2 linked regions of the Homo sapiens genome follow. The protein of the gene in region 2 interacts with the protein of the main gene of each other region in a pairwise test. Each region holds a gene or a part of one and is shown on either strand. Other genes may lie near its edges. The genes, in order: GUCA1A and KATNAL1.

Region 1 (4,489 bases), on a different chromosome or scaffold from region 2:
CTTACTCTGTTGTCCAGGCTGGAGTGCAGTGGTGTGATCTCGGCTCACTGCAACCTCTGCCTCCCTGGTTCATGCAATTCTTCTGCCTCAGCCTCCCAGGTAGCTGGGATTACAGGAGCACACTACCATACCCAGCTAATTTTTGTATTTTTAGTAGAGACGGGGTTTCACCACGTTGGCCAGGCTGGTCTCGAACTCCTGACCTCAGGTGATCTGCCCACCTCAGCCTCCCAAAGTGCTGGGATTACAGGCATGAGCCACTGCTCCCGGCTCCCTTTTATCTTTTTGAAGAGGGGTCTCACTATGTTGCCTGGGCTTGTCTTGAACCCCTCGGCTCAAGGGATCCTCCCACCTTAGCCTCCTGAGTATTGGGGATCACAGGCATTTACCACCACACCTGGCAAAACATCCCATCCTTATCTTGCTAGTAGGATTATAAATCTCTTGAAGAAGCTATGTTTGTTTGTTTTCCCTTACTGGGGTACTCCCTAAAAACAGATATGGTGATTCTTACTGTTTTAAATTTGGTAAAATTTAAATCCCAAGGGATACCCCAAATTTGCACCTAAGAATGCTCCTGTCCACATCACACAGCCCCCCACATGTGACACATACATCACAGAGAATGCATCTCCAACCACCCCACATGCATCACCTTCTTCTCTACATTCGGCCCCGAAGCACTCTTTCCTGTTCAAAGTCAAAGGTCACCTCTGTGATGCTGCCTCTGAGTCAGACGCCTGTAGGTGTCTTCTACAGAAATCTATTCATAACTTCTCTTAGCATATTTTATTATAATGATGTTTGTCTGTGTGTCTCACCATTAGCCTATGAGTTCCTAGAGGATGAAAACTGTCTTCTTTGTACATCTAACATCTAGCATTAGTACATAGTAGGCGCTCAGTAAATGCTTGTTGAAGGGAGGCGTCAATCAATGAAATGCAAAGCGCACAAGTAGGCTCCAGGGTCCCCCAGGGCAGAATGGATGTGTGATTGCAGCACTGGGATTGAAGCTGCAGCCACTGGATCTGCAGGATTCCATAAGAGGCCTGGAAAAGCTCAGTTCTGCCTCAGAGAGTCCACGTCCAGAAGAGCATGGACTGGAGAAGCTCAGTGGGGAAAGCTGGGAAAAGCTGGGAGAGGAGTCAGAAGGGCTAGGGGGTCACCCGACGGCAGAGGGATGTTGAACAGTGCCCCCCAGCAAGGAGTGCTGCCACCAGCTGTCACTCAGAGGGGCCAGGAACCATCCTTCACTGTTCCTGGCTCTGGACTCCCACTTCTGCCTCTCTGCTGCCACCATGGACCCTAAAGAGGCGAGCTAAGCCTCTGAGTTCATTAGATTCTATCTAGGGTTAAGACAAGAACACCACCAACAGGCACCACCATACCACCCCACCCGCTAGTGCAGAAGCAGCCGGGCGGTGCACTCAGCCGGCTGCCTCAGCGGCCTCGTCAGCCCCCTCCTCGTCTTGCTCGCCATTCTGGAGCCTGCGCACGATGCGGGTAAGGTCCAGGCTTCGTGTCAGTGTGTCCAGGAGCATCTGGTCCTTCTGGACGCCCTCTATAAACTCTTCCAGGGAGAGTTCCCCTGGGGTAGAGAGAAAGGGAATCAGGGGGAGGAGGGTGTTCATTTCTGCAGTCCAGAGCACAGAACCGGGTTCTTGCCAGGGGCAGGGACAGAGCCCACGTGAGGAGAAGTCAGAGCCCCTGCTGCGGGTGCAGCAAGCAGAGGAACCCAGAGCCCAGATTCTGGTCCAGGGGCCCCTAAAAGCCAACTTTGTGGCTGGGGCAGAGGCAGGTGGAGGAAGTGACCAGCACGGGGGCCTTTGGGCCTCTCCTCCCTTCCTCACCCTCTCCTTTAGTGACCTTCCACCCCTGGTGACCCCACATCCATGGTGACCCCTCCGCTGGGGAGCCCCTCCTCGGCCCCCTCACCATCCCCGTTGACGTCAATCTTGGAGAACACTGTATCGGTGAACTCCTCTGCAGTCATGGTGGTATCGCTGCAGGGGTTAATGGCGCGAATGGCCTGGGAGGGAAGAAGGGGCAGAAGTGAGAGGGGCCCATCCTTATCCTATCTCAGGGGTAGGATTGGGGACGGTCAGAGCTTGTCCGGCTCCCAAGAGCAGTGAGGAGTAGAGTGCAGGGTACCCGGGGGCCTAGGCAGAGCTGGGACTCAAGAGTCAAACTTCTATCGTCTTTTGGTATTGATGAGGAAACTGAGGCCAAGGAAGGGAAGGAACGTGGCCTGGGTCACGCAGCTGGTGAGGCCTACAGCTGCCACCAGGATCCTCAGTCCCACATCCTGTCTCAATCCTGAGATTGTTGTTCTAACCCTGGGCTCTCAGTTCCGGGTCCCACCCCAGACCGCTGCCCCCAGCCCTGGCCGGGCCCTCTGCACCTGGATGATGGTGAGCAGCTCATCGCGGTCAATGCAGCCGTTGCCATCTACATCATAGAGCTTGAAGTACCAGCGGAGCTTCTGTTCCACCTTCCCCTTGAGGACCAAGCTGAGCGCTGCCACGTACTCCATGAAATCAATGTAGCCGTCCTGGGCGAGGGGCGCGGCCGCCGTGAGCCCATCCGGGCCCCGCTCACTCCAGCCTCAGGCCCCGCCCATCATAACCCAAGGCTCCGCCCATCTCGGCAAGCCCCAAGAGACGCTGAGGGGAGACCCGGACCCTCGGAGATGCAGCGAGGGGGCCAGCCCTGTCTCCGCCGTGACCTATCTGTCTTCCTAGACGCCCTGTATAGCCCACCCTGCCTACTCCAGAGGCTGCCAATCAAATCTAATAAGCCAGCATCCACTGGGGTGTGAATGGCTGGCGCTGTCTGTTCACAGGCATCTGGGTTTTAGCGAGCGCTGCCTGCTTCCCTGTGATTGTCAAGCATGAGCCTTTCCAGTTAGGGGAAATGGGAGACATGTGCGTAGGTGGGAGGAGGAAGAACTGCACCCCCAGGGATGGGAGCGTGGTTTGGGTGAGCTTTTGGGAGTTTCTCACCCTGCTGCCTGAGGGGCTGAGGCCCCCGGAAGGCCTTAAACACTCTGAACCCCACAGTGGGCTCATTCAGTCCCAACCCACCTCCCAGGACTGTCATCAGCACAGAGCCCAGAGAGGCCCCTAGACAGCACAGCTTGAATAAGCAAGAAAACTGCTAAAGAGGTTTCCTCTGGGGGAGGGGACACCAGGTGAGGATACTTTTGCTCTTCATTTTTTATCTTTCTGTATTGCTGGAAATTTCTACAATGAGCTGGATTGCTTTTGCAGGTTTTTTTTTTAATGTCTAAAAAGGGGCAATGGAAAAGGTGTGGATTTTTGTGCCAGAAAGATCTAAATCACCTTGGATAAGTCACATGACCTTGAGTCTCCGTATTCCCAGGTATAAAATGGAATGACAGTGTGCACTTTTCAAGATTGTGGTATGCATTAGATTCAATGAAAATATATAGCAATACTAACTTTTCTTAGTGCTCTCCATGGACTTCCTAGGCTGAGTGCTTTATTCATTTTACTCATTTAATCTCAAGCCACCCCCAAGAGGTGAATATTTTTGTCTCTAGTTTGAATGACAAAGCCAAAGTTGAGAGAGATTAGGCCAAACAGCTAGTGAATGACAAAGCCTCTCCTAAATCATCCTATATCAGTACTCAAATGCAGATGGAGATTTGCATTGATTTGTGTGCACCTGTGTGATTGTCAGACAAACCCAAGCCCAGACAAACATTTGAAGTAAGCAAAGCAAATGGCCTGTCCCCCAGGTTTCACTCCCCAGTCACACTCTGTACTCCCCAGCCCTGCACATCTGGTGCAATACCCAAAGATACAACCATTTTTTAGTGCAAGGGCTGGCACTTGCACTAAAAACTTTTTAGTTTTTATTAGAAAATGGCAAACTTTTTCTGTAAAGAGCCAAAGAGTAAATATGCAGCTTTGCAGCCAAACACCCTCTGTCATTTTACGTGAAAGCAGCCATAGACAATTCTCTACGTAAATAAATAGATGTGGTGAGTTCTAATAAAACTTCATTTACAAAAACAGGCCTGTGTGCTGTCATTTGCCTGTCCCTGTTTAACTCCTCTCTGTATCAAAACTTCTGGACAGGTGCAGTGGCTCACACCTGTAATCCCAGCACTTTGGGAGGCCGAGGCAGGTGGATCACCTGAGGTCAGGAGTTCGAGACCAGCCTGGCCAATGTGGTGAAAACCTGTCTCTACTAAAAATACAAAAATTAGCCAGGCGTGGTGGTGGGCACCTGTAATCCCAGCTACTCAGGAGGCTGAGGCAGAAGAATCACTTGAACCCAGGAGGTGGAGGTTGCAGTGAGCCGAGATCGTGCCATTGCACTCCAGCCTGGGTGACAAGAGCAAAACTCCATCTCAAAAAACAACAACAACAACAAAAAACAAAACAACAACAACAACAAAAACTTCCCAATCCTGTGTTCCATCTCCTAGCCAATCTGCTAAACTGCTCCATGCTGATGACAA
Region 2 (7,296 bases):
CTTTTTTAACAACAGATGCTGGCAAGGCTGCAGCGAAAAGGGAATACTTATACATTGTTGGTATGGAAAGCAGTTTAGAGATTTCTCAAAGAACTTAAAACGGAACTACCATTTGACCCAGCAGTCCCATTACTGGGTATATACCCAAAAGAAAACCAATCATTCTACCAAAAAGACACATGCACTCGTATCTTCACTGCAGCACTATTCACAATAGCAAAGCCATGGAATCAATCTCGGTATCCATCAACAGTGGATTGGATAAAGAAAACGTGGTACATATATACCATGGAATACTATATGGTCTTAAAAAAGAACAAAATCATGCCCTTTGCAGCAACATGGATGTAGCTGGAGGCCATTATCCTTAACAAATAAATGCAGGAACAGAAAACCAAGTACTACATATTCTTACATATAAGTGGGAGCTAAACATTGGATACTCCTAGACATAAAGATGGCAACAACAGACACTGGAAACTAATAGAGGTGGGAGGGAGGCAGGCAAGAGTTGGAAAACTATCTTTTGGCTACTACACTCACTCTCTGGGTGACGGGATCATTCATATCCCAAACCTCAGCATCATGCAATATACCCATGTAACAAACGTGCAGATGTACCCCCTAAATCTAAAATAAAAGTTAAAAATTTTTAAAGTATTTTTAAATTGAGACATGTACATTTTTTAGACGTAATGTTATTGCACACTTAATAAACTATAGTATAGTGTAAACGTAACTTTTATATGCACTGGGAAACCAGAAAATTTGTGTGACTAGCTTTATCGCAATATTTGCTTTACCAAAATGGTCTGAAACAAAGCCCACAGTATCTCTCAAGTATGCCTGCAGTTTTGTCAGTTCTAGAATGCAAAATAAATAAACTCATATGGTATATACTCTGATTTCCTTCATTTAGAATAATGCTTTTGAGATTCAACTATGCCCTTATATGTATCAGTAATTACTTTTTATTGCTGAGTAGTATCCCATTATATAGACATACTAAAATTTGTTTATTCACTCATCAGTTCTCCATAGCGCACTTCACAGAAACAAATCACAAAAGTACAGGACATATCATTTACCCAGGCTTTACTTTATTTCCACTGAGTTTACATCTAAAATTACAAGATACAAAGAAAGCAATCCACTATGAGGGAGAATTAATACAACATAAAGCAAAATTAAGGCCTTTTTAGCTACTGTAAAATAAGTACATTTAAAGACATAGGGACAAGAAATTTTAAAATAAATAAGCTTATTTGAAAAATAATCAAAAAGAACTTCTGGCATTAAAATATATAGTCACTGAAATAAAAACAAAACTCAGTGGACTGAGGAAGCAAGAGATTAGACACAGATAAAAGGAGAATCAATAAACCAGAAGACAGAGCTGCAGAAACTGACCAGAATGCAGCATATAGAGAATAAGTAAATAAGATTAAGAAATGCAACAGAGTAGAAAGAGAAGATCCATCATGTATGTCTATTATGAATTCCAGGAGAAAAAAGAAAGGCAAAATTCAAAAATACAGTGGCTGAGAATTTTCCAAAACTAACAGAAGACAATAATTTTCAGTTTCAAAGCAAATCAAAGTTCACACCTAGAGACAAGGTAGTAAGACTGAAGAACATTTAAAACAGAAAGAAATGACAAATTATATACAAAGGAAAGAAATTATATTGACAGCTAACTTTTCAAGAGGAACAGTGGGAGCCTGGAGACAATGAAATAATATCTTCCAAGGGGTAAGGGTGTAGGGGGTTGGCAACCTAGAATTGTATACCAAACCATTCAAGTTTATGTTTGATAAAGGCCACATAAAAATTTCAGACAGAAAAGCCTGGATATGAATCCAGGCACCATAAATTTTTAGTTGTGACCTCAGGCAAATCATATAATTTCAATAAGCCTCAATTCTGTCTACAAAATAGGAAAAATAATATTTATCATAAGGTTATTTTAAAAATTAAATGTGATCATATGTTAACATCATTCCTCACATACAACACTGAATCAATATAAGGAATATTTTTACTCTACACTCAACATCAATGCAGATAACTGAAGCAGTTAATTTTTCCTCTGAAAAAAAGAAATCAACTGATTCAATTTTCATTATAAATTTCTAGAAGCTATACTAAAATTATTTTTAGTCATAATCTTGAAACATAGTTTTTTAAATCTCCTTTAATATAAATTAGAAGAATTTCTAGGTCTTTTTAAAATGTCAGGTTAAATCTAAAGACAAAATATTTTAGCAATGTCTAATATTTGACAATGTCTCTTATTTTGAGATTATGTATTCAAAAATAAATTAAGCATCTTCTTACAGTATTTACTGCTGAACTGACCCAGCAAAGTTGCCCTATACAGAATGCTCCAGATAATACCTTCAAGGAGAGTTCTAGGCTCAGACTGAGAAGAGCTCAGTCCAAGTTCATGCTCAGATCAAGAAGGAATACTGCTTTATCTGGTTCCAGATAATTATTTTTGTAACTGTTTCATGACTCAGATCTAAATGTAACACATAAAGCCATCTTTTCAGCTACATCTCCAACCTTTCTGTTCTCTCCTTTAAATCTACCATCACCCACAACACACACACACACACATTCTCTCCCAACATACTTGAATTTTTTATCTCATGCCAAGACTAAGACATATAATTGAAAAAATGAAAAGCTAGCTTGTATCCAGAACCCAATCCCACCAGGGATGTCACTCATAATTCCTTTTACAAATGAAATCATAATATTTATCATTCTTTTGTCTCCACAGTAATGGTTTTTGAAGAGGAAACAAAACATTTTTTAAACTAATTTTATGTGAATGATGTCAATCTAATTCAGTTATACTTACAATACATATGAGGCTAAGAAAATAATTTCTGCTTTAAACTATTTTTATTCTGACACTTCCATATTTTTCTCCTATTGTTCCTTTTCCTCCTAAAAGTTGTAAATTCCTGAAAGTAGATGCCTATTTCAGAAACACCTAAGTAACCTGAACTATAGCAATGTGAACTAAATAACACTAATTAGAACAGTGGTAAGCAAAACAACAAATCAAGTTTTATTTTCAATATTTTGTACCACAATGAATTTTATCAATATGTCCAGGCTTTACATGCTTAATGAAAAAAAAAAAAGTTTCTCCAAATCACCGAAGTCCAGTTTATGTCATACAATGGCTGCTATAAATAAAAGCAATTAAGGAAACACATAACCATGACTTCTCAAATTAATGCATCCTGAAGTATGTTTCAAGCACAATAAATGAACCTACTATGTGAGTACTAATCAACCAAATAGTTAATTTTGAAAACCACAATACCTCCCATCTCTTTATTTTGGGTAATAGTCTCAAGGACTACAGTTTGCCATGAATAATAAAGAAAACAACCACAAACCCAGACATTACAGAAGAATGTATGTAGTAATTAAGGCTTTTCATTTATTTTTTACATGTATACAAATCACTTCTCAAATATTTTAGAAACAAAAAAAAACTGTTCATAAACATAAAAGAATCTAGATACTAATATAGGGTTCTAAGAGCTTAAACGTTTCTCAAAAGTAACCATCACAGTAATTTCTGCTCATGTTCTAAATTCTACTGGCAGCTTTAAAATATTACAAAGGACAGAAAATGTGGATCATCTGTTACTGTGTCTCAAGATGACAGCTTAAACTATAAACTTGGCCAGGCATGGTGGCTCACGCCTGTAATCCCAGCACTTTGGGAGGCCTAGACAGGCGGATCTCCTGAGGTCAGGAGTTCAAGACCAGCCTGGCCAACATGGCAAAACCCCGTCTCTACTAAAAAAGTACAAAAATTAGCGGGGCGTGGTAGCGAGTGCCTGTGGTCCCAGCTACTCAGGAGGCTGAGGCGGCAGAAGCTTGAACCCAGGAGACGGAGGTTGCAGTGAGCCGAGATGGCGCCACTGCACTCCAACCTGGGCGACAAGAGTGAGACTCTGTCTGAAAAAAACAAACAAAAAAAACCCTATAAACTTTATCTAATTGCATAAATACCCTTTTTAGCACAAAAATAATAGTAGCGATGTTTATTGAATGCTAACTCCCCACCAAGTAATACGATAAAAATGTTTTTCTAGGCATTATCTCATCTAATCCTTATAACACTACAAAACAGTAACAGTTACCCACCATTTAGCAGAGGAGGTGACTGAGGCTTTAAAGAATTTAAATAATTTGCCCATAGAGCCTGGATTTGAACCCAGATGTGTCTAACTCAGAGCCTGTCCTCCTGGCTCATTACAATTTACTGCCTCAAATTCCTTTAAAGTTACGCAGCTAATCTAAAAATAAATATAAAAGGCTTATTAACAGAAATAAAGATATTTTGTTGTGGTTGCCTATATAATTAAATACTACTTGTTTTTTAATTTCATAGTGCTTTGAACAGCCTAAAACCTTTCAAAACCATCTGCTTCATATTACTGTATTTTATGAAGTATGTATGTATGTATTTATTTATTTTTGAGGCAAGGTCTCACTCTGTCGCCCAGCCTGGAGTGCAATGGTGCAATCTCAGCTCACTGCAACCTGGACCTCCCAGTCTCAACCAATCCTCCCACCTCAGCCTCCTGAGTAGCTGGGACCACGGGTGTGCGCAGCCACGCCTGGCTAATTTTTGTATTTTTTGCAGAGATGATGTCTCGCCATGTTGCCCAGGCAACTTGTCTCAAACTCCTGGACTCAAGCTTTCTGCCCCTCTCAGCCTCCCAAAGTGCTGGGATAACAAGCAAGAGCCACCACACCCAGACTCAAGTAGTCTTTGAACAAGTAATTTTATAATCATATTTACTTACTCATCCATTCATCATTCAATCTAAACTAATTAGTAAGCACCTACCACATTAAGCAAATAACCTATATACATATAAGAAACAATGTAAGGCCACGTGGAGTTCACTAACATAAAATTCTTGACTTCAAATAATATCTAATAATGCAGAGAAAATACAAGTATAAAAATATCAGGAATTATGTGTTAAATACCAGTCATCCATACTCTCACAGAAGTAGGTCAGAAAAAAAAAACAGTCACTACTGATTCTCTCATTCATTTCTCTTCCTACTGCCAAATCACCAGGAAAAATGGAAAGAGTAAAACATCAGAAAGAAAAGAATACTGACATATAAAGACACTCACAGAGACAGGAATAAACGAGAATAAAGGAACAACTTATTGAAATACAGCAAATGAAGTTATATTGTTTGTCCCTCAAACACGTAAAAGCTAAGAAAATAAGAAATAAAATACATTGTTTTTTGGAGATGATTTCCTTAAAAAACACAAGAGTGAGTATACCAAAACTAGTTTGAGCACTGACTGAAATGTAACATCCTTTGAGAGAGGGGCCAGATCTTATTCATGTATCATGTATCATTTGGTGCACTGTTTGACATAAAGACACACAATAATGTTTCTTGAACTCAAATGCAAGGCACATGTGTTTGATAAATGTCCACAAAATAACCATTCTAAAGAGTTCTATAATACCCTGGGAAGTAAATACAATTGGGGGATCAGCAACTAAGCATTAAATTCTTTACAAAATGCAAAACAATACTGAGATATGATTAAAAACTATAAAAAGTGCTCACTAAAAACAGCTTCATAGCAAAATATTAAAAAGAATAAGATTTCAAACCAAAGCTCACTTTTTAATAGGCTGCCTAATAGGAGCTTTTACAATTACTAATGGACAGAACAAAGTTACAAAAGGACTTAAAAGGTCATTTACTCCTTTGCCATCCGTTCAGTTAGGACCACAATCAAACCATACCCCAGCAAAAGAAACATATCTAAAGACATCCAGTGAAGATTAAACCACCTTGAAAAACTACTCCATTTTTTTTAAACTACTCTCACAATCTATGCCTTGAATTTATCTGGCAAATGCCCATATCTCACTTTTATCAGGTATTCTAGGGCACAATTTCCCTGGGACTACCATATATAAGTATAGTTATCACTGAAGAGAAAAATGTTTAAAATAATGTTGAGCCGGGTGTGGCCACATGCCTGAAATCCCAGCCACTGGGGAGGCTGAGACAGGAAGGCTGCTTGAGCCCAGGAGTTCAAGGCTGCTGTGAGCTATGACTGCACCATTGCATTCCAGCCTAGGTGACAGAGTCAGACCCTGTCTCCAAAAAATAAAAATAAAATGAAATACTCTTGAGCACATTAAAATATAAACATATTTTCATTTACAGATGCTCAAATATCAGTGAAATCACAAATCAGTCCAGACATTAAATACTGTCAGAATTGAAGAATTTTAGAGCCATTGAGCTCTCATATTATCTAGTGGAACTTCCTGTTTCTTTGAAGATGAAAACAAGGCAAAAGTACATTGGTATTAATGCCCTATACAATAACATTTTATAGCATTAACGGAAGCTTCATTTTAAAAAATTGATTAGTCCTCAGACTCTAATCATCACTTTGTAATATAACTACTACCTGATCCACCTGCTTAATATGGTCAAGTAAAGTCTAGAACAGGGCCTTTCTATCAGACAGAACTGGCAGTCCTGCCACACTGTTAGTAAGGAAGTGGGAGAAGAAATGCTTTCAGTTGTTGAGCACTTTAGGGTTTACCTCCACTAAACTGTTTCAACTTCCCAAAATCAAATAAATAGTATTAACACCTCATATGAAATAAGGGTACAGATTTGGAGACCTGCCTATGATCATGCAGAAAATAAGTTGGAGACACAAAATTAGACAACTTACTTTCTTTCCTTATTTTCCCCTCCTTTGTTATGCTCTCTCCCAGTTCTTCTTCCTCTATGCCTCCTAACTAGGGTCTCATTTGTAGGCTCCTCCCGCAAACACATACACACAACTCTTTTTTTTTTTTTTTTTCCTGACACGGAGTCTCGCTCTGTCACCAGGCTGGAGTGCAGCAGCATGATCTTGGCTCACTGCAACCTCTGCCTCCTGGGTTCAAGCTATTCTCCTGCCTCAGCCTCCTGAGTAGCTGGGACTATAGGTGTGCGCCACCATGTCTAGCTAATTTTTATATTTTTAGGAGAAACGAGGTTTCACCATCTTGGCCAGGATGGTCTCGATCTCTTGATCTCCTGATCTGCCCGCCTCAGCCTTCCAAAGTGCTGGGATTACAGGCGCGAGCCACTGCGCCCGGCCTACACACATTTCTTAAATGAGAGTTCCATATCCAAACCTCTTCCTTTTTCTTTTCTACTCATTACTCCAATGTGAGCTGGTCCATTCTCCCTTGTAGCTTTAATTAC

The links.
Region 1: the proteins of KATNAL1 (region 2) and GUCA1A interact in binary tests that used the Homo sapiens proteins (3 or more experiments, as listed by UniProt).

What each region holds. Positions count from the first base shown.
Region 1 is NC_000006.12:42,176,342-42,180,830, reverse strand, and holds the end of GUCA1A (guanylyl cyclase-activating protein 1), read right to left. Parts: intron 2,552-4,489; coding exon 2,402-2,551; intron 2,030-2,401; coding exon 1,936-2,029; intron 1,589-1,935; coding exon 1,428-1,588; 3' UTR 775-1,427; downstream 1-774. Other genes in the region: GUCA1ANB-GUCA1A (guanylyl cyclase-activating protein 1), read right to left, coding at 1,428-1,588, 1,936-2,029, 2,402-2,551. UniProt on the Homo sapiens protein: Stimulates retinal guanylyl cyclase when free calcium ions concentration is low and inhibits guanylyl cyclase when free calcium ions concentration is elevated.
Region 2 is NC_000013.11:30,297,379-30,304,674, forward strand, and holds part of KATNAL1 (katanin p60 ATPase-containing subunit A-like 1), read right to left. Parts: intron 1-7,296. UniProt on the Homo sapiens protein: Regulates microtubule dynamics in Sertoli cells, a process that is essential for spermiogenesis and male fertility. Severs microtubules in an ATP-dependent manner, promoting rapid reorganization of cellular microtubule arrays.